Homo sapiens: one gene and its partner. The protein of the gene in region 1 interacts with the protein of each later gene in a biochemical or structural test. Each region holds a gene or a part of one and is shown on either strand. Other genes may lie near its edges.

What was found.
Region 2: of the proteins of PTPRZ1 (region 1) and ALK, one has a biochemical effect on the other in vitro, tested with the Homo sapiens proteins (one study listed by IntAct).

Annotation. Positions count from the first base shown.
Region 1 is NC_000007.14:121,876,031-121,879,955, reverse strand, and holds part of PTPRZ1 (receptor-type tyrosine-protein phosphatase zeta isoform 1 precursor), read right to left. Parts: intron 1-3,925. UniProt on the Homo sapiens protein: Protein tyrosine phosphatase that negatively regulates oligodendrocyte precursor proliferation in the embryonic spinal cord. Required for normal differentiation of the precursor cells into mature, fully myelinating oligodendrocytes.
Region 2 is NC_000002.12:29,914,786-29,918,710, reverse strand, and holds part of ALK (ALK tyrosine kinase receptor isoform 1 precursor), read left to right. Parts: intron 1-3,925. UniProt on the Homo sapiens protein: Neuronal receptor tyrosine kinase that is essentially and transiently expressed in specific regions of the central and peripheral nervous systems and plays an important role in the genesis and differentiation of the nervous system.

The DNA of each region.
Region 1 (3,925 bases):
AGTTTATTTAATTATCTTAAACTCATGCTAAAAGAAAGTGAAGCTGAAGAGGAAATAGCAACAAAAAAAGAAAAAGAAAAGAAGGAAGGATTAAAGGAATGAAGGATAAAAGGAGGAAGGGAGGGAAGAAGGGAGGAAAGGGGAAGGAAGGAAAAATAGAAGGAAGGAGGGAAAGAAAAAAGGAAGGGAGGAAGGTAGTTGAGAAGAAAATAAAGCAAATATCCTAACAAAAGATCATCTCCTTTTTTTCTGCTTTTGACTCCTATGAAGATTTTTAACTGATCCCATGTCCCATTCCATTTGAATTCAACTCAGTTCAAATATTTGCTATGTGCAGAGTTAAACTTGTGTAGCACATCCTCTCTAGGATTAATGATAAAACTATTGACAAACTCCAAAAGCACGTACATCCACATGATAAAACTGCACTTCCCATCATTTGCCTGGTTTTCAAAACTGTTTTGTGTCACTATCTCTTACGGCCTTCTTGACTAGAGAAGACTTAAACCAATATGATAGCTTTTGGCTGACTGAAAATACAGTGTTCATGGGCTCAAGATACTTTATTTACTCATTACTGACCATCCTGCATCCCTCATTGCCCTCTCCTCCCCAACACCAGAGCAGCACAGGCGCATGCACTTGTACACATACAAAGTGGCACACTAGCTGACTTGATGTTCTGGCCCCCTGGGATGTATCCAAAACTCATTGGTGCCAACTCCTCTAGAATTAAAAGCTCACTCAAGACTGCTTCTGTAAGTACACACTCAGTATCAATCACAGGAACTTTATTTTCCATGCACAGATAGTGTCTGGATCTATGTAATGCTTGTACAGGCATTAATCACATTCATGACAGCTCCAACCTCATAGAGGATGCCTATATGCTTACGTGTATTTCTGGGAGAATCAGTGAAAGTGAAGTTCGCGTACCAGAAGTGACATTAAAGATGGACAGGTCAAGGTGAATGCTGACCTTACTCCCGGACTGAGATCATAATCAAAAGAGGGAAAGACCAGTGAAAATTGGCCAGTCTCAACAACAAACAACTATTTTTTTTTCTAAGAAGCTTCATGGTACAATCTTTCTATAACCTTATACATTAAAGATTTATTGGCACCTACTGTAAGTGCTAAGTTCAAGAATGCAATGTTGACTGAATTTTTCATTGAATTCTTCAATGAATGAATTTAACAATGAATGAATGATGAATGTAAGAATGGATTCTTTACCCTCAAATAATGTGGTCGAGTCAAGGAGACAGATAAATTGAAAAACAATACAGTGGATAACAGAACAAATTATGGAAAATGTACTATGGGAGCAGAGCACTCACTCCCGAACCAGCAGTTAATCTCTTCTGTTCAACCTCAGTCCATAAAGGCTACAAAGTGGCCACTGAACTCTTTTCACCTATTACTGCTCTACCAAAGGCCCCATCATGTTTCTAGGATGTTTGCAGGCTAACACAACACAAACCATAACTAACTCACATGCACGAACACTTCAAACAATTTCAATGACTTTAGAAATTTTTCTAGTTGAGTTGATGACTCCTCATGAGTTCTATCAATCATTATTTTACCAGCGTTTTTTGTTGTTGTTCCAAAACAACACTGCCAGATGGAGATGTTCCATGTCTGCACTGTCCCATGTGATTGCCACTAGCCACACAGATTACTGAGCACTTGAAATGTGGATGGTGTGATTAGGGAACTGAATTGTTTTATTTTAATAAATTTTAAATTACATAGCTACATCTGCCTAGTGGCTATGGTATTAAACAGGACATTTCTAAAATACAAGTGTTTTAAGATTGTGCTATATGATATTTTTTCTTTCTTTAATTTCTTTAATTTCTTTAAACACAGAGAAAAATTGGTTTCCTTTTGTAATCTGAAGTTACTTCTAGGAATTAATCTCAATAAGACACTAAAAGTTGAAATACAATTTAAATGTATATATTTTATATATATATACACAAACACATATATATATATACACTTTTATGTATATGCATATATATACATTTATATATGTATATACACACATATCTCTCTCTTGTTTAAATTGGCTCTGACTTTTACCATTGGAATTCTTAATGGAGCAGGAAGCATTTTAAAGTATTTGAGAGTTAACATATTCAACACATTAAGAGATATTTGGAAAAGACTTATTTTCGACTAGTTGTGAACAGAAAAAGTATCTTTAAAACAAGATTTAAAGAAAGTTTTCATTGTGGGATTGAATCAGATTAACTGGGTTGTGAGCATCATGAGTTTAAGTCTCTGTATGTTGATGCATAGCTGAATTATCAGCGCCTAGCATGGTGCCTTGCAGATGTCGGGCACTTAGTGAACATCTAGTGAATGAGTAGTTAAAGTAGCATGGCTGGAACGATTCTGTATCTGGATCACAGTGATTGCTACATGACCATATGCATCGGTGAAAACTTTCAAGATGGTAAAAATGTAAATTATGCCTTAATTTTCAAAAAAGGATAAAAAAGTAATACAAGAGTACATGGGCAAAATCATGAAAGGGATCCTCAGAAAAGCAAATGGGACTGTGAAATGTACCATCACATCACATGAAAGCAAGCTAGTGAATGCCAAACAGCAAATTGATCCTGGGAATGAAAAGAGGAAAAGCCTCAGGCTCTGGATTGGGAAGGAATACACAGGCTGAATCAGGATTTGTGATGTTAGGCAACTTATCTGAGTTCTCTGTGCCGGGTTCCCTCATTTGTAAAAGGTGTAAGATGAAAACACCAATATCAAAGGGTTTTGAGGAGAATGAAATGAGAAAATGTACATAAAATGCTCAGTGCTGAAACTGCACCTAGTAGACACTTGAGCAGATGGTAACTGAAAATGAAACACAGGCTCATCTTCTTAATTATGCCTTCCTTTGAGATCTTCTGGTCCTGACTGAGGGGGTTCCATTTCCATGCAACAGTCTGAACGGTCAGCAAATGGGTGGTCAAGCAAATCTCTCACTTTAGACAGTACTCAAATCTTTTCGGAGTTAAAGGGAATGAGAAAACGCAGCTTATGCTTCCAGAAAAACCTGAATTTTTGCCAGAAGCAAAATTCCCACAACATAAAATTTTAAGCAAGATCTTGAATCTCTAGTGCAGACATGAGAGTAGAAATGAATTCATCAATGAAATGATTTCTCCTGGCAAACTTCCCTGACTGGAAGCAACCACAGTATACGTAAAAAGGAGAGAGAAATGAAATAAAGAAAATTGCAACTCTGCAATGAAAAGGAATTAATTTTCTGAATAGAGGCTAGTTATTATTTGGGAAAAAGGCATGAATATTTTTTATATGTGGTTACAATTTGTTTTCAGAGGATAAATAGATCAAACTGAGAGTCACAACATATTGAATTTCAGACTCTATAACCAGCATAAATTAAGAAGTTAATTCTTCCAGAGGAGTTGGGTATAATTTATTGTTAATGTGGCTCTTAAAGCAGTAAGATGTGACTGAGAAGTACAGAATCTGATTCATTACATATTTAATAATAATACTTAAACATTTGAACTTAGTGTACCTTGCAGCACTATAATTCACTTAATTCAAAGATCCTGAATTCCTTCATTAATTGGAAGAAATTATTCCTTAAAAGCTCTTAAAATATCTACCTCTCCTCTATGACTCATAGTTAAGCCTCCTTACAGGAAAGCCACTGTAGTTTTTCCCATAAGATACACCTGTTCAGTGGGTCAAGAAAAATTTGTTTTGGTTCATGTATTCTGATAAATTTTTTGTCTGGAAAGTTATTTGAAAGAAGCAGTTGGTCTATTATGTCCAGTTCAAAACATCAGGACATTTTAGATACAAAATGATCTGATCTGATCACTAAGACATTCTTAATTGCCAATAATCAATATCTTAGTGAACTCTACAACTT
Region 2 (3,925 bases), on another chromosome or scaffold:
CACACACACGAGTACTCTCATGCAGGAGGGATATTCAGAAGCTGAGGTTCCCTAGTCATTGCACAGAATACATACTAGTATGTGACCCCCAAGAAAAACAGAGTGCGGATGCACATTTCAACATTAGTGTTAGTGACACTGGCACCTAAAGTGAGCCCTTTTCATTTAGTGCTGGAATTTATATAGACCATCCTAAGAGGCACTGATGAGTTTGATAGTGCCTTCAGTGAACTGAGATGGAAGACTGATACTGTTGTTCCACCCAAGATGTTTTTGTAAAGAACAGCTGGGCTTTAATGTCATTGTGGTTTGTGTGGTTTATACATGCAACATTCTGTTTTAGTGCCCAGTGTTTTAGTAATGGATATAAAAATGACTTCTCTGGAAATGCAGATTATCTTCTAGTTTCATGCCTCTGAGCATCTGTGGAGCTTCCCCATCACCTTTTATCAAATGACCATAGAATCCAGCAGTCTGTATCAGCTGTTGTCAGATGTTGGTGACAGGCAAAAGGGCTCATTTCTACAGCCCCGAACCTGCCAACTGTAAACAGGTAGGTTGCATGAAGCTATCAGTGGGTGTCTCTGAAGAGTCACATGCTTAATTCATTTAAAGAATATACTCCACTCAAGTCTTAAATAAGGTGTTGGAGCTGCTGAGTGGGGAGGTTTATGTAGAAAGGCTGTGCTCCAAGGGCTTCTCTGCTATTGGCTGTAGGGAAGCATTGTGGGCATCCCAAGCCCTCCCTCAGTGGCCCAGTACATTTGGCAGCTGGACCAAGCCCTTATGCATCATTTGACACATCTAGCAATGCTGATTTCAGTAGGAGCCAGGATTCTGCCATTAAAAGGCAAGAAAATTTGGCCAAGCATTTTTCAGCAGGATTGGAATCAAATGATTATTGATAGGATCAAATAAGACACTAAGTGTAACTGGATGAGCTCCCCATGACCTCCAGAGAGACAGCCAGCCTATTGAAAAGCACTTCGGGCCTTGTGGTGATCATACTTGGAACAGCCTGGTCTCTCCTTTCTCTGAGGACATATGCTGTCTGCAGTTAGGCAGCTGGCCATGCAGGACTAGCCTCTCTCACATTATCATTGCCTCCCCAGCCTCATTCAGATACAGTCTCCATTGCAGACATCCCCATGGAGTAGATACACCTTGCTATACCATGTTCTGTGTTTCAGACAACATGTATCATTATGGTTCCGTTCATTTTCCCTATGAAAATTCAAGGTTAGGTTCTGACACTGGGATTGATTTTGCTATTTATCATGTTTGGAGAAATGGGTTTATTATTTTTATATAGGCTCTGATTTATAGAAAAGGCATTTAACTCTTCTATGATGTGGGCTCTTCAATTATACAGAAGGAAAGTAGGCACAGCTCAGCTTATTTTCTTCCTGTGTCTGCCCAAGTGTCTTGTCTGGAGGTACACAATGATGCTGATGGGGCTATTTGTGGGGGAGGGAAGAGCTGATTGTTCTTCCATGTTTTGTGGTGAGGGGCCTGGAGCAGCCCATTTGGCTCAGACCAAAGATAGCTTCCTAAACCTGAGCAGGACCATGACTAAAATAGTAAAAATGAAAAAGCACCAGTTAGGAGAAAGCAAAACCGTTGCATTGCTTGTGATTTGGGCTGTCTGAGAGGACAGAAAGATGTCTGAGAGGCCTTATAATGCATGAAATGCTAATGGTTTTTCCTTGTGGGTTACTGTGAATTCAGAAATAGGATCGGCATTTCAAGTCTGAGGCAGATCCCAAATTCACCCATTCATGGAGAAGAGGTGAAGAGGCAGTTTCTGGGACTGTATTAATGGTTCTGGCCTCTCCCAGGACAGCCCAAATCATAGAAAAGATGTCTGTCTGCAAGGCTGGCATGTTGCCCACAGCTCCAGTTTGTATCCTGGCTTACAGGTGTTTTGAGATCTGTTTCTGCTGTCACCCAGGCAGAGGGCTAGGGGATGATGACTCATGGGATAGGAGGCCTATTTCCCTGTAAGCACTCCCTCCCCACCCAGGAAAGTGGATACATGACTTTGGATTTTACATGTACTATGGAGAGGCCTGAGCAATTTAGAGATGTATGCAATGCAATATATCTGACCTTTGAACTCCCATATCTGTCAGTCCCTTCCCATTTCATTTCTGGAGTGGGCAGAGAGAGCAAAGGAGGATGGAGAGGAAATTGGAGCTCCCAGAAGGGATATCAGTTATTGGAGGTGAATTGGGAGAATTGGAACTAGTCCAGAGAAGAGCAGAGAGCTGATTTAACAGTTGAAGGGACTGATTTACAATGAAAGATGAAAAGAATTAAATATATATGGCTGGGCTAAATGGCGATGAAGGGAAAGCCATGGTAACAATCTACAAATCTCTGAAGAGAGAGAGTGGCAGTGAAGGAGAGGAGTTATTTAGCGTGGCCCATGGAAGTAATTGGATCATACTTGTAGAAGCAAACTTCGGGTTGGATATCAGGGAAACCTTGTTTTCTGACATTGATATTCCTCTGACTATGGAATGGAATTCCAATGGAGTGGGGAGTCAGGTGAGATGTGGGTCAGACAAGTCCCAGCATTCCTAATTAATCAGTTCTATATTTTCACATATTGAGAAGCTACAACAGGACAGAGAGCTGGGATGCAGAATGGCAGAAGGAATCAGAACCTTTTTATGATCCAAACCCTGGAGCCTTTGGGCATTGGTGTTTTTAGAGGAAAAGAAAAGAATTGCATATACATCTTTGAAGTTGGTGAGAAGCACTTAAGAAATTGTTAATGACAAATATTTTGAAATTACTGAATTTATTCTTCCCTGCCCTCCAATTAAACATAGATTATTTCTCTGGGGTGCGATCTGTATATCCAGGGGTTTGGGAGGCACAATCACCAGAGAATTGTGTATCTAAGATACATCTATGGGTGAGGGTATATGACAAAGCATCACTGAGCAGGGCAAAAGGTGACCTGTGTCTTGAGAAGATGCCATCAGTTCTAGATTTGGTGGACTCCTACTGGCTACTTAAAAATCCCTTTAAATGTTGAGAATCTATATTGCCATTTGAAAGATGAAGTTCATCCACATCCAATTTAACATTTCAAAAATTTTTAAAAGAGAAAGAAGGTCCATGAGGGGTTTTTGTGTAAGGCATGGGAGGAGAGTGTGATTATTAATAAAAATGGGTATCTAGGCTGGCCGCAGTGGCTCATGCCTGTAATCCCAGCATTTTGGGAGGCCGAGGAGGGCAGATCACTTGAGGTCAGGAGTTCGAGATCAGCCTGGCCAACATGGTGAAACCCTGTCTCTACTAAAAATAAAAAAATTAGCCAGGCATTGTGGCATGCGCCTTAGTTCCAGCTACTCAGGAGAGTTGCTTGAACCTGGGAGTTGGAGGTTTCAGTGAGCTGAGATTGTGCCACCTCACTTCAGCCTGGGCAACAGAGTGAGAAAGGAATATCTATAAGGAAGTTGGTCTGCTGAAAATCAGGAGGAACTGGCCTGAAGGTGGGAGAAGAAAAGAATGAGAGTTGATCAGCAGAAGTCTCAGTGCCCTGCCACTCAGGATCACTGCCTGGCAACCTCACAACATGGAAATTTTTCCAGTCTGACCTGTAAAGGAAATTTTGCCTTTCTTTATAATCATTATTAGTGTCCTGTTATGGTTATTTGGAACTTTACAATTTATAAAGCATGTTCACATTTATTATTACTTATTAATCCTATGGTAGGCAGGACAAATGTTTGCTTTATTTTGTAAATGAAGTAACTGGAATCCAGACCATATTTTTCCAGGTCATATAGCACAAAATGGTATACACCTGGAAACTTTCATACTGACTAGAACCACAGTTCCCCTTTCCTTCAAGTCAGAGTTCTTTCCACTAAGGGAATCATCTCCAAGTGCAGATTACAAAGAGCAAGAC